3 linked regions of the Homo sapiens genome follow. The protein of the gene in region 3 purifies or fractionates together with the protein of the main gene of each other region. This does not show direct contact. Each region holds a gene or a part of one and is shown on either strand. Other genes may lie near its edges.

Evidence for each region. The genes of interacting proteins can lie anywhere in the genome.
Region 1: the proteins of GNL2 (region 3) and USP36 purify together in Homo sapiens (affinity purification with mass spectrometry; 3 studies listed by BioGRID and IntAct, with this or other methods). This does not show direct contact.
Region 2: the proteins of GNL2 (region 3) and PPAN purify together in Homo sapiens (affinity purification with mass spectrometry; 3 studies listed by BioGRID). This does not show direct contact.

What each region holds. Positions count from the first base shown.
Region 1 is NC_000017.11:78,809,792-78,816,828, forward strand, and holds part of USP36 (ubiquitin carboxyl-terminal hydrolase 36), read right to left. Parts: intron 4,762-7,037; coding exon 4,621-4,761; intron 4,083-4,620; coding exon 3,982-4,082; intron 3,211-3,981; coding exon 3,069-3,210; intron 1-3,068. UniProt on the Homo sapiens protein: Deubiquitinase essential for the regulation of nucleolar structure and function. Required for cell and organism viability.
Region 2 is NC_000019.10:10,109,348-10,112,535, reverse strand, and holds the end of PPAN (suppressor of SWI4 1 homolog), read right to left. Parts: intron 2,906-3,188; coding exon 2,829-2,905; intron 2,788-2,828; exon of another isoform or gene 2,696-2,787; intron 2,624-2,695; coding exon 2,516-2,623; intron 2,414-2,515; coding exon 2,290-2,413; intron 2,213-2,289; coding exon 2,134-2,212; intron 2,052-2,133; coding exon 1,922-2,051; intron 1,840-1,921; coding exon 1,670-1,839; intron 1,592-1,669; coding exon 1,371-1,591; 3' UTR 815-1,370; coding exon of another isoform or gene 796-814; 3' UTR 524-795; downstream 1-523. Other genes in the region: P2RY11 (P2Y purinoceptor 11), read right to left, coding at 796-814; PPAN-P2RY11 protein, read right to left, coding at 1,514-1,591, 1,670-1,839, 1,922-2,051, 2,134-2,212, 2,290-2,413, 2,516-2,623, 2,829-2,905. UniProt on the Homo sapiens protein: May have a role in cell growth.
Region 3 is NC_000001.11:37,571,936-37,578,972, forward strand, and holds part of GNL2 (nucleolar GTP-binding protein 2), read right to left. Parts: intron 4,622-7,037; coding exon 4,493-4,621; intron 3,765-4,492; coding exon 3,660-3,764; intron 2,889-3,659; coding exon 2,730-2,888; intron 2,522-2,729; coding exon 2,408-2,521; intron 1-2,407. UniProt on the Homo sapiens protein: GTPase that associates with pre-60S ribosomal subunits in the nucleolus and is required for their nuclear export and maturation.

The DNA.
Region 1 (7,037 bases), on a different chromosome or scaffold from region 3:
TTTGCACTTTTTTTGGAGATGGGGTTTTGGAGATGGGGGTCTTTCTATGTTGCCCAGGCTGCTTCCTTTTTTTGAGATGGAGTCCCGCTCTGTCACCCAGGCTGGAGTGCAGTGGCACAATCTCAGCTCACTGCAACCTCCACCTCCCGGGTTCAAGCGATTCTCCTACCTCGGCCTCTCGAATAGCTGGGATTACAGGCGCACGCCACCATGCCCAGCTAACTTTTGTATTTTTAGTAGAGACAGGGTCTCACCATATTGGCAAGCTGGTCTCAAACTCCTGACCTCAAATGGTCCACCCACCTCAGCCTCCCAAAGTGCCCGGCCCCCCTCTTCTTTTTTTTGTAGACAAGGTCTCACTCTGTCACCTTGCCTGGAATTCACCAGCGTGATCATGGCTCACTGCATACAGCCTCAACCTCCCGGGTTCAAGTGATCCTCCCCCAACAGCTTACTGAATATTCTCTGTGCTGATGGGATCTATGTTGCCCAGGCTACTTTTTAAATTTGTTTTGAGACAGGGTCTTGCTCTGTTGCCCAGGCTGGTGTGGAGTGGTATGATCATGACTCACTCCAGCCTTAATCTCCCTGGCTCAAGTGATCCTCCCACCTCAGCCTCCTGAGTAGCTGGGAATACAGGCACGTGCCATTAAACCTGGCTAGCTTTTGCATTTTTAGTAGAGACAGGGTTTTGCCCAGGTTGGTCTCGAACTCCTGGGATCCACTGATCTTCCCACATCGGCTTCCCAAAGTGTTGGAATTACAGACATGAGTCACAGTCCCAGGCCCAGGCTGCTTCCTAACTTCCTAGTCTGGGCTACAGTGACCACCAACTTTGCAATTATATCATGTATTTTACTGCCACTTCAATTCTAATGCTTCTAATTTCAGCTTCTATTTTCTTTAATGTGAAGAGAAATACAGATGTACGTAAATGACCAAAACCCCTGCAGACTGTGAAAGGCCCTGACTGCCTGTGTGTGGGGTTCAACTCTTCATTCTAAAGGGAGAGGAAGACGATCCATCAAAAACAGTCATCCAGGCCGGGCACGGTGGCTCATGCCTGTATCCCAGGACTCTGGGAGGTCAAGCTGAGCGAATCACTTGAGGTCAGGAGTTCCAGACCAGCCTGGCCAACATGGTGAAACCCCATCTCTACTAAAACTACAAAAATTAGCCGGGAGTGCTGGCGGGCACCTGTAATTACAGCTACTCAGGAGGCAGAGGCAGGAGAATCGCTTGAACCCAAGAGGCGGAGGCTGCATAGTGGCAGAGGCTGCAGTGAGCTGAGATGGCGCCACTGCACTCCAGCCTCAGTGACAGAGCGAGACTCTGTCTCAAAAAAAAAAAAAAAAAAAAAAAAAGAAACAGTCATCAAGAGGGTCCACCCCACTTCAAATGATCACTGTGTTCTAATGAGGAAACTGCTCATGAATCCACTTAGTGAAACTGAATTCTTAACAGTTCTAGCAGAAAATTTCAAATACACACAAAGGTAACTTAGAGGGTAGTTCCTAATGGTTAACCTGTAACCACATAACCTTTATCATCCTCTCTCTGTATGTATATGTACGTGTGTATATATGTATGACTATGTACGTATGCATATACACATATTTCTATTTCTGATCCATTTGAGTAAATTGCAGACATGATGTTCTTTTACCCCAAAATATGTCCATGTGTATTTCCAAAGAACAAAGACACTCTCTTACATAACCACAGCAGAATTACCCAAATCAGGAAATTAACATTGGTACAAACTACTCACATTTTCCCCGTTAAATGTGAGAACAGGCCGGGCACAGTGGCTCACGTCTGTAATCCCAGCACTTTGGGAGGCTGAGGCGGGTGGATCAGGAGGTCAGCAGATAGAGACCATCCTGGCTAATAAAGTGAAACCCCGTCTCCACTAAAAATAAAAAAATTAGCCATGCATGGTGGCACACGCCTGTAGTCCCAGCTACTCGGGAGGCTGAGGCAGGAGAATCGCTTGAACCTGGGAGGTGGAGGTTGCAGCGAGCCAAGGTTGCGCCACTGCACTCCAGCCTGGGCGACAGAATGAGACTCCGTCTCAAAGAAAAAAAAAAAAGGATATTTTTTCCTACACGCTTACGGTTAAGAGTTTGCTTGGTGCCTGTAATCCTGGCACTCTGAGAGGCCAAGACAGGAGAATTGCTTGGGCTGAGGAGCTTAAGACCAGCCAGGGCAACATAGTGAGACCCTGTCTCTACACAAAATTTAAAAATTAGCTGGGTGTGGTAGTGCACTGATAGTCCCGAATACTAGGGATGCTGGGGCAGGAGGGTGGCTTGAATCCAGGAGCTCAAGCCTGCCCTGAACCATGATTGTGCCACTGTACTCCAGTCTGGGTAACAGAGTGAGACCCTGTCTCCAAAAAAAAAAGTTTGCTTGGCATTATAAAGGAAATAAAAGGAGTGCACACAGAAAGTTTGCTTGGCACACCTGTCACGACACCTGTAAGTGGTGCTGGTCTCATGAGTAGAACAGATCTGTGAATGACAATTCTAATTTGTTGGGTCAGAATTTTCTCATTCATGTCTCCTCTTTCTCTATAGCCAATGTCAGCTGATGACCAGTTTAAGAAATAACATTGGCCGGGCGCGGTGGCTCATGCCTGTAATCCCAGCACTTTGGGAGGCCGAGGCGGGCAGATCCTGAGGTCAGGAGATCGAAAGCATCCTGGCTAACACGGTGAAACCCCGTCTCTACTAAAAATACAAAAAAAATTAGCCGGGCGTGGTTCGGGCACCTATAATCCCAGCTACTAGGGAGGCTGAGGCAGGAGAATGGCGGGAACCCGGGAGGCAGAGCTTGCAGTGAGCCGAGATTGGAGATCGCACCACTGCACCCCAGCCTGGATGACAGAGCGAGACTCTGTCTCGAAAAAAAAAAAAAAAAAAAAAGAAAAGAAAAGAAATAACATCAACTAGAATAGTGCAAACTGCCTGCAAATTCCTTCCACTGTGGCCAACTTCCCAAGTGTGAGGAGGTCTGTGAGGAGCACCAAGACCAGCCACTTTGGCCTCCATCATTCTCACAAATACCTTTCCAGTCAGTGGGGAGGAAATAATCCCATTGCCGATGTTCTTCTTGGAGTGATCTGGAATCACACTCGGGCGGCCGGGAAGGGAGGAGGAGCCTGTCCTGGAGATGAGGCCCTCGGGACTTTTCTTAGAGCCTGGAATTCTGTCAAAGGAAGAAAACAAGTAGGGAATTCTCTTACTAGGCATTACAGAAACGGAGAGAATTAGAATAAGTTAAGGCGGGGCAAAGGCAGAAACACGGCCTGGGGAAACCCTGCCAGTCCTAACCACTTCTCTGGAATCTCCCTTTGCCTTTCAACCACAGTGAGGCTGAGAGATCAGCCCCAAGTATCTGCTGAATATAAGCAGAGCAAGGGCAAATTAGAGTCAGAATTCCTCCAAGATCAGAGTTCAATGCACCAGAAAGCAAGAACCTCAAACACCTCAGCCACACTCTGCAGAGACGTACAAAGCAGCAAAAATGCCTCAGCTGCCACGGTCTCCAGCCTCCAGGTCAGTGACAGCCAGCTCCAGGAGAAGGCCCCTCCAGAGAAGCTCTGCAGCAGCACCCCCACAAACACGTCCTTCCCAGCATATCCCTACAGGGGCAGCTTCCCCACACGGGAAGGGGCATTGGCTGGCTACCATCCAGGGAGCAGTACCTCTAATTTGGGGCAATACTATAAATGGTGACTTTCCTGTTTACATTCAAAACAGCATCAATGTGAGGGCAGATGGGATCCTGTCCTGACCTTCCCAAGGCTCTGGCTTTACTAAAAAGTGTCCTTCCCTGTGGACGGTCTCTATGACACATGACAAATCCCTCCAGTGGAATTCCCAATTACCTTCAAACAAAAAAAGGTTAGGGAGGCCCACCGGTATAAGAAAAGAGCAGAGGGAGTGAGCTCATCTGGGGAGGGCGTGAGTTTATTACCGCAGATAGAACAGCACGTAGGCCTGCTGGTTCAGAACCACCTTGACGTTGCTGGAATGGACCAAGGAATCATTCATCTGGTACCACTGTCCATTGCTTGCCTGAAGCAGCCAAGGATGTTGCAGAAAACAAAACAATCAACAAGCATCCCATTATCCTCACTTTTTAAAAAGGGAATAAAAAATCTGTTAGTTGCTACATTTCCAAACACTATTAATAATCAACAGGTAACAACTTCTATTAAAACGTGTAATATTTTCATAACTCGGAATGTGACCCCAAAGTGTGCTCTGCGTCCCAGTTCCTTCCTAGTGCCCCAACAGATAGGAACTGTCCCTTCTAAAGGACATTCAGGCAGTGTCATCACCATGGCCGATTTTGCCAGGGTTCTAAGGATGGCACCAGAAGCGGCTGCCTCTTCCGTGTCTCCCTGCAAGTCTGAGAACACTAGATTCTGGTGCAACACTTCTGTAAAGGGCATCTTTTCACTCCACGCAGAGAGGCAACAACGAGGACTTGAATACAACCACAAAACATCACACTTTTCACAAAGTAAGTGCTCTACAGAGGCCGCATCTGGATGTGCATGGGTGCTGAAACCTGTCCCAGGAGGCAGCTGCACTGACACAAGCCTCTCACCTTCACGTAGCAGTAATAGTGCCCGGCATGGCAGCTGTAGCCCGAGTGCACCAGGACAGCATAGAGTCCATACATGACAGGATCACCATTATTCTGGGACATATACGGACGTATGTTGAGGAATTCCGGATAGCCTACATCCTGTTTGAAAAATCAAGGAAAAGACAAATAAAATTCACTTTGAGAGTAAAGATCAATTTGCCCTTTCCATCCACAACCACACAAAATGCCCAGCTTGTCTGGTCTTTAACAATTTGGGGGCCGGGCACAGTGGCTCACGCCTGTAATCCCAGCACTTTGGGAGGCTGAGGCAGGGGGATCACCTCGAGGAGTTCGAGATCAGCCTGACCAATATAGCGAAACCCCACTTCTAATAAAAATACAAAAAATTAGCTGGGCATGGTGGTGCACTGCCTGTAATCCCAGCTACTCAGGAGGCTGAGGAACAAGAATCACTTGAACCCGCGAGGCAGAGGTTGCAGTGAGCCGAGATCGAGCCACTGCACTCAGCCTGGGCGACAGAGCGAGACTGTCTCAAAACTGCCCCGCCACAAACAAGAAAAAGACAATTTGGGGCGAATGGGTGTGCAGCAACGCTGTGCAGGAGCTCCCCCAGGCAATGATTAAAAACCAAGATGCTGGCCAGGTGCGGTGGCTCACGCCTGTAATCCCAGCACTTTGGGAGGCCGAGGCGGGTAGATCACAAGGTCAAGAGATTGAGACCATCGTGGCCAAGATGGCGAAACCTTGTCTCTACTAAAAATACAAAAATTAGCCAGGCGTGGTGGCACGTGCCTGTAGTTCCAGCTACTCAGGAGGCTGAGGCAGGAGAATCGCTTGAAACCAGGAGGTGGAGGTTACAGTGAGCCGAGATCATACCACTGCACTCCAGCCTCGCAACAGAGCGAGACTCCATCTCAAAACAATCAAAACAAACAAACAAAGAAAAAACACCAAGATGCTGAGAAGTGAGTCTTCTCCAGCCAGCCTATGGGAAACTTTATTGTCCCATCAAGCAATGCAGGATCTGTTCTTGTCTTTGTCAAGCATCTCCATTAGTTCTCTCACCACCTGGTTCCTAACGATCAAATGAGAAGGGTCACTCATTTTCTTTCCCTCCACTTTACAGGAACATTGTTGGTGGGAGAAAAGGGAGAGAATGCTGGGTTTTAGATCTTCAGAAATAAAAGTGCTGAATTAATATAGCCAACTGCTACCGCAAGTAAGACTTTTAATCAACTGGATCAGAAGAAAGGTCATGCTAAAATGTCTTCCCAAAACTGACCAATTTTTCATAGAAAAAAATACACGCACACATATACATAACATGCATACATATATGCATACATGCACGCATAAAATACATGCACACATATATACATACATGCATACATACATCGTATACACACATGCACACATATATACATACACACACACATATGCATGCATACACATGTACGCATATACATACATGCACAACACATACATGCACGCACACATGCATACGCACACATACACACACATATACACACATGCATGCACACACATATACATACACACACATATAATACGTGCACACACATATATACATACATGCACACACATATATTCTTAGCAGTAATAGTGCCTGGCATGGCAGCTGTAGGCTGAGTGCACCAGGACAGCACAGAGCCCACATGACAGGATTGCCATTATTCTGGGTCATATACAGACGTGTGTTTAGGAACTCCGAAAAACATACGCATAATTTTTTTTTTTTTTTTTAAGAAACACAGTCTCGCTCTGTCACCCAGGCTAGAGTGCAGTGGTACATTCATAGCTCACTGTAACTTCAAACTCCTGGACTCAAGCAATCCTCCTATCTCTACCTCCCAAGTAGCTGGGACTATAGGCACGCGCCACCATGACTGGCCAATTAATAAAAATTTTTTAGGCCGGGCATGATGGCTCACACCTATAATCCCAACACTTTGGGAGGCCGAGGTGGGTGGATCACTTGAGGTCAGGAGTTCAAGACCAGCCTGGCCAACATGGTGGAACCCCGTCTCTACTAAAAATACAAAATTTAGCCAAGCATGGTGGCACACATTTGTGGTCCCAGCTACTTGGGAGGCTGAGGCAGGAGAATCGCTTGAACTTGGGAGGCAGATATTGCAGTGAGCTGAGATGGTGCCACTGCACTCTAGCCTGGGTGACAGAGTAAGACTCCGTCTCAAAAAAAAAAACAAAAAAACCAAAATTTTTTTGTAGAGACAGGGTCTCACTATGTTGCCCAAGCTGGTCTTAAACTCCCAGTCTCAAGCAATCCTCCCACCTCAGCCTCCCTAAGTGCTGACATTAGAGTTGTGAGCCATTGTGCCCAGCCTAAATCATTTTTTTAAACTGAGTTGTGGGATTTGTTGAAATGCATAGATCTT
Region 2 (3,188 bases), on a different chromosome or scaffold from region 3:
TATTTTCCCCCATACCCTGCGCCACCTGATGACGGTGAGAAAAATCTCCCTCCTTCGGGAGGATGGGGGGGCCTGCTTACCCATTACTGGTGCCAGTGCTCACCACAGTGCCCAGGGCACAGCAGCACAGGGGCACTCACTCCTTGTGCACCCCACCCCTGCCTCTGCAGGCTGGGGACAGGCTTCTCCGGAGGCGCCTCCCTGCTCCCAACGCCAGCCTGCTTAAGGAGGAAGTGTCGTCTAGACGTGGCTTTTTTTTGGAGACAGGATTTCACTGTCACCGAGGCTGAGGTGCAGTGGTGCAATCACAGCTCAGTGCAGTCTCGACCTCCTGGGGTCAAGTGATCCCCCTGCCTCAGCCTCCCGAGTAGCTGGAATCACAGGCTCGCATCACCACACCCAGCCTTGACCTAGGCTTTTTTTTTTTGAGATGGAGTTTCGCTCATTGCCCAAGCTGGAGTGCAATGGTGCAATCTCGGCTCATGGCAACCTCCGCCTCCCGGGTTTAAGTGATTCTCTTGTCTCAGCCTCCCGAGTAGCTGGGATTACAGGCATGTGCCACCAGGCCCAGCTAATTTTTTTATTTTTAGTAGAGACGGGGTTTCTCCTTGTTGGTCAGGGTGGTCTCGAACCCCTGACCTCGTGTTCCACCCCCCTCGACCTCCCAAAGTGCTGGGATTACAGGCGTGAGCCACCGTGCCCAGCCCCAGACCTAGGTGTTTTACCAATACCCACTACCCCCACCTCCTGACAATCTGCAGACCCCCAGAGACAGCCAACATGCCTTCTCCTTACCCGAGACGTTGGCTGCCATGCTCCCGTGCCGATCCTCAGCCTGTGTCTGCTACCCAGTTCCCCAGCCCCTCCCCCAGTCACCAGTGGCTTAGTGGGCCCTGCCCCAGCCCCATCCCCAGTTACTGGCCCAGCCAGCAGAGCAGGCCAGCGTGCCTTTCCACCCACGTTTCCTTCCTCATTGTGCCACAACCCTCCTGAGGTTCAAGCTCATCTGCTGAAAGTGTGACCTGTCTGCTTGCACGGCTCTTTGGTGGGACTGGGGGGAGGGGCCACTCATGGCTGCTGCTGCCACCAATGAAACCAACCCCGTGCAGGGTAGGGGAGAGACCCAGCTTCCAGGAAGAAACCAGGTGGGAGGGACTCTCGGGTGTGGCCGGCCCAGGACTCTCTGGGTTGCTTTGTATGGCTCCAGAATCCCCCATCCCAAACGCTGACGTGGACCCCTGGCCAATTCAGTTCTTTACTGGAGTGGAAGGGCTGGGGACACAACTCCTTTATGAAAGGAAACCGAGGGCCACATCTCGGGCCCCAATCTGGGGCGTTCAATCCAGCCGCTGCTCCGGTGCGGCTTGGGCTCAGGCCACTCTCTTCCCTGGGCGGCCCCGGCCCCGGCCTCGCCCACCATCCCGGGAAGCCCCTCTGGGCCCCCGCCTGGCCTGGGCTCCCTGGGACTTGTCCTTGGTCTTGGGAAACTTCTGGTCACAAAGGCGACCCCTGCCTCGATCCATTTCCCACCGCTTCCGCTTCCGCCCTGGAGACTTGGCAAGCCGTTTCTGCTTGGCCTCGGGGAACAGGTCTGTGGGGAGAGACAGTGTCAGGGCCCCCAGAGACAAGGACAGGCTCTGGGTGCCCTGCTGCAGACCCCACTCCATACCCTCACTGGGCGCCTCGCCCACCGCCTGGCAGAAATACTCGATGTCATCATCTTCCTGTTCATCATCGTCCTCACCCAACTCCAGGCTCGCCGTCCTTGAAGGGATCCCAGAGGCCTCTTCATCACTACCCCCGACCCGTGCCTTCTTCATGCCCTCCAGGCTCTTCTTTCTGGAGGAGGGCGTGGGGGTCAACATAGCCGCCCATCCCAGGGACCCCCCCTTGGCCCTGCCCTTCCCAGCTCTGCCTGGACCTGTGGGCCTCCCGCTGCTCCTGCTTGCGCTGCACATTCTGGGCCTGCTGGGCCTGCCTCTGCGCCTTCAGCCGCAGCTTCTTCTCCTTGGCTTCCAGGATGGCCTGCAGCTCCTCCTCCGTCTTGCTCACTGAGCCAAGAGACGCGGGTCACCAAGATCCGGGTGCAGCTCCACACCCATGACCCCCCACCCCCGGCGGCCCCGGCCTCACCAAAACTGTGGAACATCACTTTGCCCTCCCCGACGCCCTCCTGGACCTTGATGAGCTGCAGTGTCATCCGCGGGCCGATCTGAGGGGACGAGGAAGAAGCGTCAGCCCACCGTTGGGACTGGTGGAGCCCGGGGGTCCCCCTGCCCTGGGCCTCACCTCGGTGAGCCGCACTGCACTCTGCTGGGCCCGCATGTTGCCACGGCCAGCGACAGCCTGAGGCAGCTCTGTGATGTTGTGGTCGCCGTCAGGCTCTGCCTCGCTCTCCGACAGCCCCGCGCCCCTGTGTGTAGGACATAACAGGGCTCAGTGGGGGAGCTCAGGCTCCCGGTCCTGTTCTGGGGTCCCCGGGCCGCAGTGGCCTCCCGCCCTATGCCCTCCTCACGTGGCCAGCAGCTCGCTGATGTCCTGCAGGCGGCTCATGTTGGGGAACTTCTCCTGGAGCAGCTTCTTCATCCCGCGACTCGCGCCCACAGGAACAACTTTGATGCTACTGCAGGAACATGAGTGGACGGCAAGGGGGTGGTCAGGGGGCACGTGATGGGGCTGGCGGTGCCCATCTCACCCTTCCCACAGTGCGTCAGGGCGTTTACTTTGGACAGAGCAATCACAGCGTCTCAGCAGAAGTGCTGTCATCAGCCGCATGTGGAGGCCCCCACCCGGCACCCCCTCGTCTCCCATCCTGCTGGGACACTCACTAGTGGCGGAAGTCCAGCTCCTGGGAGTCGGGGTTGTAGTCGATGAGGAGGCAGCGCTTGATGGTGTTCAGGTTCACCTGGAAGGGGAGGAAGAGAGCATAGTCCAGTAGACTCATGGCAAAGTTTGGGGAAGTGGGGGCTTTGGGGGATACACACACTGTTCGTGGACTGTGGCACTGGCTAGAAATGCTGCTTCCAGCTCGCACCTGCAGTTTTAGCTACTCCAGAGGCTGAAGTGGTGGGACTGCCTGAGCCCAGGAGTTCAAAACCAGCCTGGGCAACACGGCGAGTCTCCATGTCTACAAAAAGTAGATGGAAAAATGAGTTGGATGTGGTGGTGCACGCCTGTAGTCTCAGCTA
Region 3 (7,037 bases):
TCCTGGCCCACGACATTCCAGCCACAGTGACCTCCTTTCAGCATCAGGACACACAGAGCATACTCCTGCCCCAGCTGCTCTGGATGTGCTGTTCCCCTTGCCTGGAACATTCTCCCTAGATACTAGCATGGCTCCTGTCTCATATTAAGGGCTCTGCTGAAGTGCCACTGCCTCAGAGGCCTTCCCCGACCACCCCAAAGTACTCCTCATCTCCCCCAAACCCCTTAGCCTGGTTTAGTTTTCCTCACAGCACGCAAGACTTCCTGACATTATATGTTTATCTGCCTACTGTCTCCCTGTGATATAAATGTCACACTTCCTGGCACAGAGCTCCTAAGACCCTTGGAATTTCCCAAGCGATGGGTATCTTTTTTATTGATTACAAGCCCCTTTCCACCACACCTGAGTTTATGCTAATGTGGTGACTCATGGTAGACCCCTAGATAGCTTCAGGATGGGGGATGCGCTGGTCACCAGAAAGACAAAGCACTTGACCACATGGTTGGTGCTTTCAGCCACTCAGAGGAGAGAAGGGAGACCAGAAATTGAGTCTATCACCAACTGCCACAGATTTCATCAGTCATGTCTATGTAATGAAACCTCCATAAAAACCCCTACATGATGGGGTTTGGAAAGCTCTGGGTTGCTGAACACATCAATGTGTGGAGAGGGCATGGAAGCTCTGTGCCTCTCCCCCATACCTTACCCTGTGCACCTCTTCCACTGGCTGTGACTGAGTTTCATCCTTTATCATAAACCGTTAATTGTAAACACAGCACTTTCCTGGGTTCTGGGAGTCCTTCTGGCAAATTATCAAACCCCAGAACCCCTGAATTTGTAGTTAGCCGGGCGTAAGTGTGGATAGCCTGAAGCTGCCATCTGAAGCAGGGGACCTAGTCCTTAACTTGTGGGGTCTGTGCTAACTCCGGGAGTTAGTGTCACAACTGAATTAAATTGTTGGGACACTCAGCTGGTATCTGAGAACTGCAGAACTGATATGGAAAAAAATTATGTATTTGGTGTCAGAAGAAACCACACACTCCCCTGCTGGAATATATGTGCAGGAGAGCAGCAGCTTGTCAGTTTCTCACCACAGCACCACCAGTACCCAGAAGAGTCTGTGGCCAACAGGAGACACTCAATATGGGATTGCTGGGTGAATGTATCAGTGAATTAATGAATGAAAGATGCAATACACATGAAGAGGGAGAGAAATTTTTGTTTGGTTGTTTGATGGTTTGGGCAGGGAGAAGGGAGAATGTCAATTAACATCAGTTTCAGGCTAACTTTCAAATGCTGCAGAATACATTCAACTGAAAATACCTAGCTGCAACTGCAACTTGGAATGGGGTCAGGTGAGAGGAAACCAGCACTGTATGGACCCAACGACACTAGCAAGCATAGATGCACAATTTGAAGCCACCATTTCAAGAGACTTGGCTGGGTTCTGAAAAAGGTCCTAGAACCAGAAAGGCAAAACGTTAACGTTGAGCCTTGTGGCGGCCCACTGCCAGGGTGAGGGAAATGGGGATAGTAGGAGAGCTTCTGGCCCCAGCCTTCAGTCTTCTTTCTCCGACTATCAGTAGTACCACTCTCCTTTCCCACTGGATCACAGGTTTTTTGAGGGCCAGGGCTGTTTTTCGTTCCTATATTCCCTGTGCCTGGCACATAGTCGATGCTAATAAATGTTTGTTAAACAAATGTTATCTTAGCAATGATTCTGTTTCGTAAGCATAAGAAAAGATACAGGTACCAGAAGATCACTTACATTTAATGAGCCCTCTTTTTCCAAGGCCCTAAAGGCTAGTATCTAAGTTTGGTCTTCTCTCATATGTCTACTTATTAGTCTCCAAATGCACCCCCTAGCAAGGCCATGGCACTGGCACTCTAGAATGAGAGAGGGTGGAGTGATCGCCATGGGCCAGCAGTGGCTCCCAACAGTGCTTCACCCTCAAAAAAATTTTTTTTTATTTTTTTGAGATGGAGTCTCCCTCTATTGCCCAGGCTAGAGTGCAGTGGCACGATCTCGGCTCACTGCAACTTGTCTCCTGGGTTCAAGCAATTCTCTTGCCTCAGCCTCCCGAGTAGCTGGGACTACAGGAGCGTGCCATCATGCTAGGTTAATTTTTGTATTTTTAGTAGAGACAGGGTTTCACCATATTGGTCAGGCTGGTCTTGAACTCCTGACCTTGTGATCCACCTACCTCGGCCTCCCAAAGTGCTGGGATTACAGGCGTGAGCCACCCATGCCCGGCCCCAAAAATATTTTTATATATTTAAAAAAATAATAAAATGAGAGACACCGCAGCTGAATGAATACACGCTCTATGAAGAGAGACAATCACAAGCTACACCAAATCTAGGTCAGGACCCATGCTCCCCAGAGGTGGGCCCACCCTGCTCTTACCTGGGGGGCCACAAGTGGCTCTGCATTGGGTGGCTTGACAAAGAAAGGAATCCGGCCCCTCTGCCAGTCATTGAGGACCATCTTACCCACAGTCTGCAAGTCGGGCTCTCCACCCTGAAAGGTCACAAAGAGATTCCCAATTAAATTCAAAGGACCAAAACCACCTACCACTTTGGGGGTATTTCAGTTGTCCCAGGGGTTCATCATCACTTAAGTGACAAGTTTCACACTGCTCATACATGCATACCAAAAAAAGGCCCATATCATATACATACATGCTTGTGACAAGTATCAGTCTAAATTCTCACAAACGCCGGGTCACCTTTAGTAACTTCCCAGTCCGGAAAGCGAGCTTCTCAAGAAAGTCCTCAGCATTCTCCCAAGAATCAATCTTGTATGTTTTGCTGATATATTCTGGCTTTGCTCGTTCAAGTACAGCACCAATGTGGTCTTCAGGACTCTTAATTTTTTCTACTTGAACCTAAATGTTAATAGGAAATCTCTCACTTACAAACTTTGTTGTGGAAGCAGTGAAGTTCCCAGTGTCCTTTGCAGCACTATTTGAAAATAGACTTCAACATCACAAAGCTCGTGGAGATTGGCAGGAGCCTGTCTCTGACGGGGCTAGACATGGTCAGCTGCAAGGAGCACTGCTGAAAGCTGACCATAGCCACGGAGCCCAGAACTCAGCTTTAATCCCCACTCACCACAAACTAACTGTGTGGCTGCCACAGTTTAAACTTGGAATGCTTCATGTTACTCACTTGCAGAAATGGTTAAAAGCCTGCCCATCCCAGGACACAAAAATAATGGAATAGTTTAAGAAAGGAGAGGAGGAATGTGTACAGGATGTATAGCCAGAAGCATGGTCAAGGTTAAGTGGAACCATTTACAGTTTTTCAGTCGTATTCAGAAACAAGTGAGGAAATGACTGGGTTCCAAAATGACTCAACCCATAAACCCACGAAGACGAATTATCGCTAAGCATAAACAGGCCCTGCTTCCCTTTGGATCCTGTGTGTAAACTACAAACTCTTTTGTGGGATGATATTGACCAGATATGCCCATGGTTCCACTAATTCCTCAAACAGCTTATGCTGAGAGGCTGCTGTTCAGCATCATGTTCCTAAAGTTTGGTCAGACAGGCTGACCCCAAACTGCCTTCTTAATAAGTAAAAAGGAAAGGTATCCAGGGTTCCCTATAGAACACTCCCCCGCAAACACAAACAGCCTATCAGGGCCAAATACTCACAACTCCTTTTAGCACAATGTCTGTCTCGGAGTCCTCAGAGGGGTAAACCACACCTGGACAGTCAATCAGGAATATCCGACGCATCAAAGTAATATACTGCCAGACCTGAAGTCAGAAAAAAGTCAGAGATGTCCTGTATCAAACACTAAGAGTCTAATTTCACAAACCCCTGATGCTCATGTATGAAGCTGGAAAGGAGGAAGGGGTGAGTCAAAGAAAAGCAACGCGCTAAGTAATTAAGCTACTAACTCTCTCATCTGTGCCGTGCACAAGATACTTCCACTAAGTGTAAACTATAGTTTCCATCAGCTAAGAGTCTAAAAACAACACAGAGACAGGATTTCCATCTCGTATTGTGCAATTATACCCGGTGAACCTTTCCTGAGTTTTAGAAGTACTCTTGAGAGCTTAGTACTGCTTGACCTCATTGCCTTTAAGCAAAACCATGCTGTTCCCCACTATGTGTTCTAGGATATGACCCCCAACTTTCAGAACCTACCTTAAGTTTGAGGCTTCTTAACCCAGGCATCAAATATTCTTGGGTTAGTTTTGTTTATCAAAATAAAAGGCTGGAGTGATAATTTAAAACAGATCTAAATATGAATCACATTAACTAACACAGGCCAAAGCCACACGGGGGCATATAAAATACTCTCAGTCTTATCAAAGTGGGCAGAAACAACTCTGATACGTTCCAAACTATTATATGGTGAGCTAAACTCCTAGTGGTGGTCTGCATTCAAGAGAAGCAGAGAGAAATCAACAAGTCCTAAACAATCACTCTCTATGAAAAGAAAATATGCAAAAGTAAGGTCACCCTGCGCCCAACGTACCTTTGTTTCACCTGCAATGGGAGCCACGTTGCAAACTTTCTTAGAACGCAATGTATTTATCACAGAGCTCTTGCCAACATTTGGATAGCCAATGAACCCAACACTGATCTGTTTCTTGTCAGTGTGCAACTGTTCAAAGAGAGAATACACAGCACATACATGCAGTCATATATATCCCTTTGGACAAGTAGGTTGTATTACTTTGTTAATATCAAGAATACAGTGCAAAACTGTTGATACAACTTGATCTGAAGCCTAGATACACACCACCTACATAATCTGAGTAAGCTGGATACATATGCTTATTAATAAATCAGAGGTGAGTCATTTCCTCAGTCATGCAAGTGAAATTATCCTTGTATGTGTTAAGGTTAAAAGTATGTAGGTCAAGAAATAAAAGAAGGCTCGGCACAGTGGCTCACGCCTGTAATCCCAGCACTTTGGGAGGCCAAGGAGAGCGGATCACCTGAGGTCAGGGGTTCGAGACCAGCCTGGCCAACATGATGAAACCCTGTCTCTACTAAAAATACAAAAATTAGCCAGGCATGGTGGCGCAAGCCTGTAATCCCAGCTACTTGGGAGGCTGAGGCAGGAGAATCGCTTGAACCTGGGAGGCCGAAGTTGCAGGGAACCAAGATCATGCACTGCACTATAGCCTGGGTGACAGAGACTCCAGTCTCAAAAAAAAAAAAAAGAAACAAAAGAAGAAAAACAGCTTGTTAGTCACTGATTTAGAACAATGCCATCTATTGATAAAACATCTTCGGGAAAAAGAATATGAACAGGTTCATCAACTGGACAATCCCACAACTCACCCCCCCTTTTCTTTGCATAATACATCTGCATTTCCACTGCCAAAAATAAATAACAAAAGAAAAAAAGCAACCTTGAAAGTTACGACTACAGGGTGAAAGTCTCAAAAAGGCAGAGCTTGCTATCAAGAAGAGGGCCTACAAACGAATGGAGGCTTCCGATTAAAGATGGTGGACTGAACATACATGCTAACCCCGTTCCCTCACCAACTCCACTAGAATGACAGCAGTGGACATTAACACTTTTAAACCAATAGAACCAAACATACTGAACCAGAGAATGAGATGGAGATGAGACAACAAAAACTAAAGTGATGTTAAACAAAATACTAGATGCTTAAAAGTAGTATCAAACTTGGCCCATTACAAAATATAAAAGCTAAGTGGTTGTAAAGATAGAAAAACTAAAGATCCAGCAATAATAATGACAATGAATCACAGAGATTCATTGGGAATCACTGGGAATTGGTGGTAGATCCCTCTTAAGATAGGGCTGAAAACAAGGACCAGCAGATAGTCTGCCAAAGCAGCCACACTTCTCCATCCCCTCCCTCATTCAGGGTGGGCACACAACTTCTCTACTCTCAAAGAAATCCAGGGCCTATGAAAGTGGCTTTTGGATTTTTTGAAATGTCACATGTTTGAAAGTATCTGTAATCTTCAGACTTGAAAGGGATCCTGGATTTAGAGATAATAACAGTATTCCCAGAATGATTAATTGAAAATCTAAGTATTCAATAGTGAGATGCCCAGTCTACTATTCCCACTGAGTTCCCAGAACTCTAGCAGCCAGGATTCTATACCCCTAGAGCTAGAGATTGAAAGATTCTCTTCTGGGGAAACTCACAAGCCCAAGAAAAAAGACCTACAGACACTGGTATCTACAGGATGTCCTCCCAACAAAAAATTTGGGTCCCAGTCAGGCACAGTGGCTCATGCCTGTAATCCCAGAACTCTGGGAGGCTGAGGTGGGCAGATCACTTGAGGTCAGGAGTTTGAGACCAGCTTGGCCAACATGGTGAAACCCCAACTCTACTCAAAATACAAAAATTAACCAGGTCTGGTGGTGCTTGCCTGTACTCCCAGCTACTTGGGAGGCTGAAGCAGGAGAATTGCTTGAACCCAGGAGGCGGAGATTGCAGTGAGCCTAAATCAGGCCACTCCACTCCAACCTGGGCAATAGAGCAAGACTCTGTCTCAAAAAAAAAAAAAAAATTAAATTAAATTAGAGTCCCTATTTAATCACCTTACAATGAAGTCTATCAGTCAACAAGGCCACTCCATGGAGAAAAAAAAGAACCTATCAGCTTTTTAATGCCTTACTCTTTTTTTTTTTGAAACAGGGTCTTCCCTTGTCAACCAGGCTGAAGTACAGCGACACAATCACAGCTCTCTGCGGCCTCTGTCTCCTGGGCTCAAGCAATCCTCCTGCCTCAGCCTCCTGGGTAGCTGGAACCATAAGTGTGCACCACTATGCCTTGCTAATTTTTTTCTATCTTTTGTAGAGATGGAGTTTTGCCATATTGCCCAGGCTCGTCTAGAACTCCTGAGCTCAAGCGATCTGCCTGCCTCATCCTCCCAAAGTGGTGGGATTATAGGCATGAGCCACTCTACCTGGCCTAATGCCTTACTCTTAAATATAAATAGAGAACCAAGAATAAACATTTAAGTTGACTCTACTTGCGGGTCGAGGCTGCAGTGAGCCATGATCGCACCACTGCACTTCAGCCTGG